2 linked regions of the Homo sapiens genome follow. The protein of the gene in region 1 purifies or fractionates together with the protein of each later gene. This does not show direct contact. Each region holds a gene or a part of one and is shown on either strand. Other genes may lie near its edges.

Region 1 (3,818 bases):
TCTAAGAGGTGGAATCTATGCTTCGACAATCTCAATTAGACGGAAGGATCCTTAAAAGATGCAGAGAAAGGGTGCTTTATTTTGTTTTTGGACTGCAACAGGAGTGGTTAATCAGAATTAGGCTTATTTTATTTTAATTTGATTTAATTATTTTATTCTTCTTTTGTCTGCAAGAGCATGAGCTACATGATTCTGTGTTCCTCTTTCCCCGTTCTTCTTTCTTGTACTGGATTACATATAATCTTGACACCACCTCTGCTCTAGTTGACTCTAGTTCTTGATAAATCACTTTCTTTTTCCTGGTTCAATAGTAGACCACGAAATTGGAATAGGTGGGGTGCTGTGACCGACAGAGCTCAAAGTCCTGTCTTACTCATCATTTTTATAAACTCTTCTTACAGAACAAGCTAGACTCATTTAATGGCAATTTAAAGAATTGTAAAACACACAACCTGTGTAAGAGTAGGAAATAGCACAAATAAAAAAATAAAAATACAAGACAGAGCTGAGAAGTGGCAAATGAACAGTAGAGACTTGGTAACTGATGTGTCTAGTATGTATTTCCTGGCTCCTGGATTCTCCTTTGGACTTCCCATAATAGAGTGTGACCAGACTGAACCAGGGAGCTTTTAGGTTAAAGCTTAAACAACCCTGATTTTTACTACTTCTCACCTTTGTGAATTCAAGAGTCAGGATATGGAGCTCTGCCATTTCTTAGTGGCAAACTGTGTGGACCATTTTCTCACCCCAGCGCTCAGACCATAAGGCAACCAATAGATTTTTTTTGGGAAAGGTGCTCCCTTTTGCATTTCCCAAATCCAGCTTTTCAATTTTCCTCCCCAATATGTTAAGCTAATCTTTAAAGGGGTTCAAAAAGTAGAGACAGTCTAACTTACCAGACAACGGGAAAGCTCCTTGGATGCTGACACAGAGAGAGAGCCAGAGATAATAAACTGTGGAAATGGACAAATTTATTTGTGAAATGGGTTAACTGGTTGTGCTTGGGAATTTCTCTTTATATGAAAGGTTGGTCTATTTATGTTCATCTAGTTTCCTTCTCAAAATTTTCTCTCGCACTTCTGAATTTTCTGGAGTAACTCTCAGTCATATGTCCTTGACTTCTTTTTTATTTTCTTTTCCTTAATTTCTGGCCTATGAAGAACTCACAATGTTTAAGCATTCCTTGTTCTGAGGCTTACTGCTCCATCCCTTCTCATAATCAATTGCATTTTTTTAATTAAAAAATTTTTTTAGAGATTGAGTCTCACTATATTGCCCAGGCTGGCCTCCATCTCTTGAACTCAAGCAATTCCCTGGCCTCAGCCTCCCAAGTAGCTGGGACTACAATCACACACCACTATGCCTGGCTTACTTGCATATTTTTAATCATGTTTCCAATCACCTTTTCTTTTCTTTCTCTCTCCACCCAATACATACATTTCCATCTCAAATGTAGTAGGATATCAAAACTTTGGCTTGCTGATTACATGATTAAATTTTAAAGAATGGAATAAGCTCCTAGGTAAAATGGCGAAAGAGTTCCCGATTTTTTCATGCTCATTCAGAGCTGTTAATTTTTCTAAATTCTCCAGCCCTCATTCAGAGCTGTTAATTTTTCTAAATTCTCCAGCCCTCAGATGTAGGGCTTTATCAAGAAATGAGTTGTGAATTGGCTGGAGATAGCAATACTTTATAAACCAAGAGGGAATACTTTATAAACCAAGAAGGACTGGTGTTCTAGCAATCTACTCACAGAAAGGCCACCCCAGAATGGGTATCCACCAATAACAGCAGTAGAGGCAAAACCTAATACTTCTCTAAAAGAGAAGGATATTAAACACAAAACAATTCCAAAACCAATGTGCATCAATCCAACCATGATCTGGATCACCTGAAAAAAGAAAACAGCCATTTAAAATTACTTCTTCACTTTCAGACGTGTGAAACATTACTGTCATTGCTGCCCCTGCTTATTTATTGTCAATTTTGCTGAGATCCATCGTTGTCATTCAGGCACACATCTGAAGCAGGAGGTGGGTCATGAAGATTCTGACATATACTAGAATAACTGGAGTGCAAGGCCCTTAGTGAAACGCCCTGTTTTGAGGTATTTGGAGAATTTACTGGGGTGGCCCAAGAAGAATTCTTCAGAAAGTACAGCTGCTTAATCATGCATTAGCATCTCTGAGGGCCTCTAAAAGACTATTAGAAAAACAATACTTTAACTGTGATGTCAGTAGCTGCTTTTTCAGATGGATCAGTTCTCTGCTTGGGTCATCCCAGTTACGGGTAAAGGAATTGGTGAAGATAAAACCATTTATTAGGCATGAATTATGTGCTTGGTCATGTTCTGAACACTTTACATTTATTGTTTCATGTAATCCTCCTACAACTGGATTGAGTCCCAGAGACATAAAGATATCAGGTATCCAAGGTCACACAATTCCTAAGAGGCAGATCTGGGAATTTACTGCAGCACATTGACTGCTGAGCCTGTCTGAATTATTCGGTACTGTCTTCCCCCATGCTCAGCTCTGCTCTACCTTTTCCATGAAGTCTTCTTGATTACACCAAATTAATCTTTTTTCTTTCTTTCTGAATTTCAGTTGCATCTCATGACATAAAACACACCTTATTACTTGATTTTGGATTCATTTATATTGTTTTTTTTTTTGTTTTTTTTTGGTTTTTTTTTGAGACAGAGTCTTGCTCTATTGCCCAGGCTGGAGTGCAGTGGCATGATCTCGGCTCACTGCAAGCTCCGCCTCCCGGGTTCACACCATTCTCCTGCCTCACCCTCCCGAGTAGCTAGGACTACAGGCTCCCGCCACCATGCCTGGCTAATTTCTTTTTGTATTTTTAGTAGAGACGGGGTTTCACGGGTTAGCCAGGAAGGTCTGGATCTTCTGACCTCTTGATCTGCCCGCCTTGGCCTCCCAAAGTGTATATTGTCCTTTTTTAAAAAGTTGCAGGTATGCAATCATTTTCTTACCAATCATTCTTCTTATCAATCATATATTACTAAAAGTAAGGTATACATCTTTTACCTCCTTGTACCTCTTATTGAACCTTCCTTCATTGTAAATAAAGATAGATTTCTGAGGAATAATCATTTCTAGATTGGTCCAAAACTTGATTGTAGATTTGTAATTTATTTTTCCCCATGGTTACATCTTATCTATCCAGGGAGACTGCAAATACAAAGACTGCTGTATTTATTTCTTCAATAAATAGCTACTGAACACAAGTAAATCGAATTAAAATTAGAAAAAAACCCAGTTTCATAAACAATGCTAAAAGTTTCTTGAGACATCAATAAAAACCATGAACCTTTCTCCCTGAAAAATTATTCTTGCACATTCATACACACACATACCATACTTTTGCTTATAGCTTCAGAGAGATGATGGGCCACGTTTAGCCTATCTCACTTAAAGAACTCCTGTATTAGACTTTATATTTGGTTTTTACAACTGTTCTTTAGAGCAGCAATTCAGCCGTCTGGTCACAAACTTCCCATTCTCATCCTTGCTGTCACCTTGATGAGGGGCAGTTAGATCTGGATTTGTACTGGCCCTCATTTCTCCTCCTACAGCCCTGGCTGTACCATCTACTGATCAAAATTGCCTATAGGACAGACTTAAAAATTTGGACATACAATTTGTCTGCATTTTTGGCCACAGAAGCACTTTAAGGTCTGAGTTGACTGGTACAGGTGTGCCAAGTCCTGCCACCTGTGGCCCCTGCACTGTCATGATGCCCAGGGCCTGCTGATGGCATAGAAATAACAAATCTTCAGAGAGAGGAAGTAGCTTCTG
Region 2 (3,818 bases), on another chromosome or scaffold:
CCAGGATGGAGTGCAGTGGCATGATCTTGGTTCACTGCAGCCTGGAACTCCCTGGGCTCAGGTGATCTTCGCACCTCAGCTTCCGGAGTAGCTGGGACTACAGACATGCACCAGCATGCCCAGCTAAATTTTGGTGGTGGGGGGTATCTTTTGTAGAGACGGGGTTTTGCTATGTTGCCCAAGCTGGTCTCGAACTCCTGGGCTGACGTGATTCTCCCACCACAGCCTCCCAAAGTGCTGGGATTACAGGTGTGAGCCACCATGCCTGGCTTTTTTTTTTTTTTCCCCTCGAGACAAGGTTTTGCTCTCTTGCCCAGGCTGGAGTGCAGTGGCATGATCATGGCTGACTGCAGCCTCCAACTCCTAGGCTCAAGGTATCTTCCCCACTTGGCCTTCAAAAGTGCTGAGATTACAGGGGTGAGCCACCCCACCCTGCCTACTACTACTTTTTTTTTTGAGATGGAGTCTCACTCTGTCGCCCAGGCTGGAGTGCAGTGGCATGATCTAAGGTCACTGCAACCTCTGCCTCCTGGGTTCAAGTGATTCTCCTGCCTCAGCCTCCCGAGTAGCTGGGACTACAGACGCATGCCACCACACCCAGCTAATTTTTGTATTTTTTTAGTAGAGACGGGGTTTCACTGTGTTGGCCAGGCTGGTCTCGAACTCCTGACCCTGTGATCTGCCCAGCTCGGCCTCCCAAAATGCTGGGATTACAGGTGTGAGCCACCGTGCCTGGCACCTACTACTACTTTTATGCTCACTTGTGGATATATTCTTGCCTTTCTCTCTGAAGTGGGTAGGGGTAGAGTAAGGATATTTGTATCTCTTTGTTACAGATTGGAAGACTGAGACTCAGGTTTCGTAGTAACAGAGCTCGCTTCCATCTTCCCCTCCTCCCCTCAGACCACATGGCCTTGCTTTGATCCAAAGCCCTAACTTAAATCTTGCCCAGTAACTCCACTGAAAAAGCTTATATCACTCCTGTAATCCCAGCACTTTGGGAGGCCGAGGTGGGCAGATCATGAGGTCAAGAGATCGAGACCATCCTGGCCAACATGGTGAAACCCTGTCTCTACTGAAAATACAAAAATTAGCTGGGCGTGGTGGCATGTGTCTGTAGTCCCAGCTACTCAGGAGGCTGAGGCAGGAGAATCCCTTGAACCCAGGAGGCAGAGGTTGCAGTGAGCCAAGATCGCGCCACTGCACTCCACTCTGGTGACAGAGCGAGACTCCGTCTCAAAAAAATACACAACAACCCCCCCAAAAAAAAGCTTATAAGTTATAGCTCTCCAACCCCCACCATGCACACACTCCTTAATGGTAAAATTAAAAAGTTAGCTAGAAGTAAAATGCTCCATCACTCTCTGGACACACCTCAACCAAAACCTCAATATCAGACTAGAGAAACTGGGATATAGCTGGTGCAGGCACCTCGTGGAGTGGAAGAACTGCCACCTCCCATCCCCAAGGTATTCTGCCTCAATGTCTTCCCTCTTCTCAGTTGCTCAGCCCAGTGCTGGCTTTGAGAGCAGCTGCCCTTGATGAAACTCAACCCAGCAACCCCACCCCCACAATTAAAAGCTTGGAGCAGCCCTGTCAACTGGCAGAGCTGCCAGCCCAGGCTCCACCCCTTACCTGTCCTGTCACTGTGCAAGTTGCTTCCCCTACTGGGTTCCTGCTTCCTCCCTGTAAAATGGGGATAGTGATCTGAGTGTGCCCTGCCTTCCTCCCATGCAGGTGGGAAGATTAATGCTGTTGTGGAGGGGAGAGTACTTTGTGACCCCAAGGAGGCGGACAGCAGAGGAGCATGGTGATTTCAGTTACTAACCATCTAGCTAGATCCTGTCCACCCTGCTGGGGCCACTTCATGTAGAAGCTTCCAAAATGCTCTACCTTTCTTTGGTGTGGAGAAGACAGGAGTTGATAGGAATGGTACTCTGGGGCTTGTTCTCATTTCATTCTGATCTGATGGAGCCTTGGAATTCAGAGAGAGAAACAGGCAAGGGGTGGGAATAGAGTGTTGAGATTGCTGGAGTACATTGGAGTTGAGAATTGAGAAAGGGGGACTAGTTAGAGTCCCCCCAACCCAAGATACCTATACCTACCTTTAACCTCCCATAGTGCCCCAGGGTTCTGTGCATCTTATGTTTACATACCCGGGCTCCCAGACACACCCATGTTCACACCCCCACTTCGAAGCCAACAACTCCCTTCATTTCCGTGGACTGCCATGCAGTCACCTAGCTCCTCCTGGACACAGGTCCACACATCAACACACATTTACATACCTGGACACACACATTTCCACAGCACCCACAGGTTCTCTGGCCTGAGAACATTTAATGAGCATTTATAAAGCTTCCATGGTCTGCCGAGTCCTGTTCTAGGAACATCAGAAAAGCACCGTGGTGCCCTGAAAATCATTCTAGCTTTAGAAAGAAGGTGAGCTAGGTTTGAGTCCTAGGTCCCTCATTTTATTAGCAGTGTGACCTTGGGAAAGTTACTTAACCTCTGAGGCCCTGTGCCCCCACCCTAAAATGTCAGTGACACTCAATTCAGGATCGTCGAGGATTAAATGAAATCATGTAATATATTATTCTTGAAACTGAGGGCACTGGACAAATGGTACCCAATACAATTACTAAATTAGTGTGTTTTTAAAGGCAGCTTGGACTGGAAAAGGAAGAGGCATAACACACCAGCACACACTCCTTTAGTCTTCCTAATCCAGGCTTTGCAGAGACTCCCTGGGACCAAGTGAAACACATAAACAACTCCATCCTCCCCTCCATCTGAGGGCTTCTGCCTCTTGCCCTGTGGTTGAAGTGTTAGGAAGAGGCAGGAGAAACCCTCTGAGTCCCCCTGGGGGCTAAGGGATGCTGCTCCCGAAGTTGCAGTCACTGTTTCTAGTTTTGTTGTTCTCTTTGGTTTTCCTTTTTCTTCCCTGAGGACCTCCTCCCCTGCTCCACAGCCCGCCCCCGAGGCAGAGCTTCAGTGTTGTCAGCAGAAGGGTCCCCCAGGGACCCCCCAGTAAAATGGGTGGGGCAGTGCTGCATCTGTTGAGGCCACACTTCTCCGCTATCCTGGGATCCTCCCCAGGGCCCCACTCTGCTCTGTCCCCAAGCACTTTGAGAACCCAGGCACTCAGGCTGGCTGTCCCTTTTCTCCTCCTGCCCACCCCATCCACTCTGAGCATCAATGCAGCCGGCCAGTTGCAGGCAACCAGGCAGCACCCTGGCTGCCCAGGCAGGCTAAGAGGCCCCCACCCACTCCCCCCTCCTTTGCCAGTGGAAAAGCTTGCCGTAGGGCATAGCTTTCCCAGCCTTCCCTGCTTCAGAGGCAGGAGCATGGCACTCTGGGAGTTGTAGTGCTCATAACACTCAGGCGATCCCTGTGCAAATAACTGGAGAGAGGACTATGGTATGGGGAAGAGAAATGAGAATAAGCAGGAGTGGCTGGGGCCAGGCAGGTAACTCAAACCCAGAAGTCCTACTATTTACTTGACTTCCTACTCTGACCCATCGTCGAACCTAAGCCAGTTATATTGAGTTCAAAACTCTAACCAAATGAAATCATGCCATTTTTTCTAATAGGCATAGAAAGAAAAGATCAGGATGAGGCAGCTGGCTCCTGACCCATTCTCCCCTGACGTGGAGACCCCTCATCTTACCCTTGAGTCCTCAGGCCTAAGACCCCTCCCTGTCTTCCCAGGCTCAGCTCCGCCCCCTGCCCTAAGACAGAGAGAATGAGAGTGTGGGGGTGGCGGCGGCAGGGGGGATTTAGATAGATGTTAGAAAATCACAGATACCTTCCAGCTT

Evidence for each region.
Region 2: the proteins of MS4A12 (region 1) and TMEM63B purify together in Homo sapiens (affinity purification with mass spectrometry; one large-scale study listed by BioGRID and IntAct). This does not show direct contact.

The regions. Positions count from the first base shown.
Region 1 is NC_000011.10:60,499,118-60,502,935, reverse strand, and holds part of MS4A12 (membrane-spanning 4-domains subfamily A member 12), read right to left. Parts: intron 1,892-3,818; coding exon 1,754-1,891; intron 954-1,753; coding exon 897-953; intron 1-896. UniProt on the Homo sapiens protein: May be involved in signal transduction as a component of a multimeric receptor complex.
Region 2 is NC_000006.12:44,130,480-44,134,297, forward strand, and holds part of TMEM63B (mechanosensitive cation channel TMEM63B), read left to right. Parts: intron 1-1,737; exon of another isoform or gene 1,738-1,807; coding exon of another isoform or gene 1,808-1,810; intron 1,811-3,818. UniProt on the Homo sapiens protein: Mechanosensitive cation channel with low conductance and high activation threshold. Osmosensitive cation channel preferentially activated by hypotonic stress.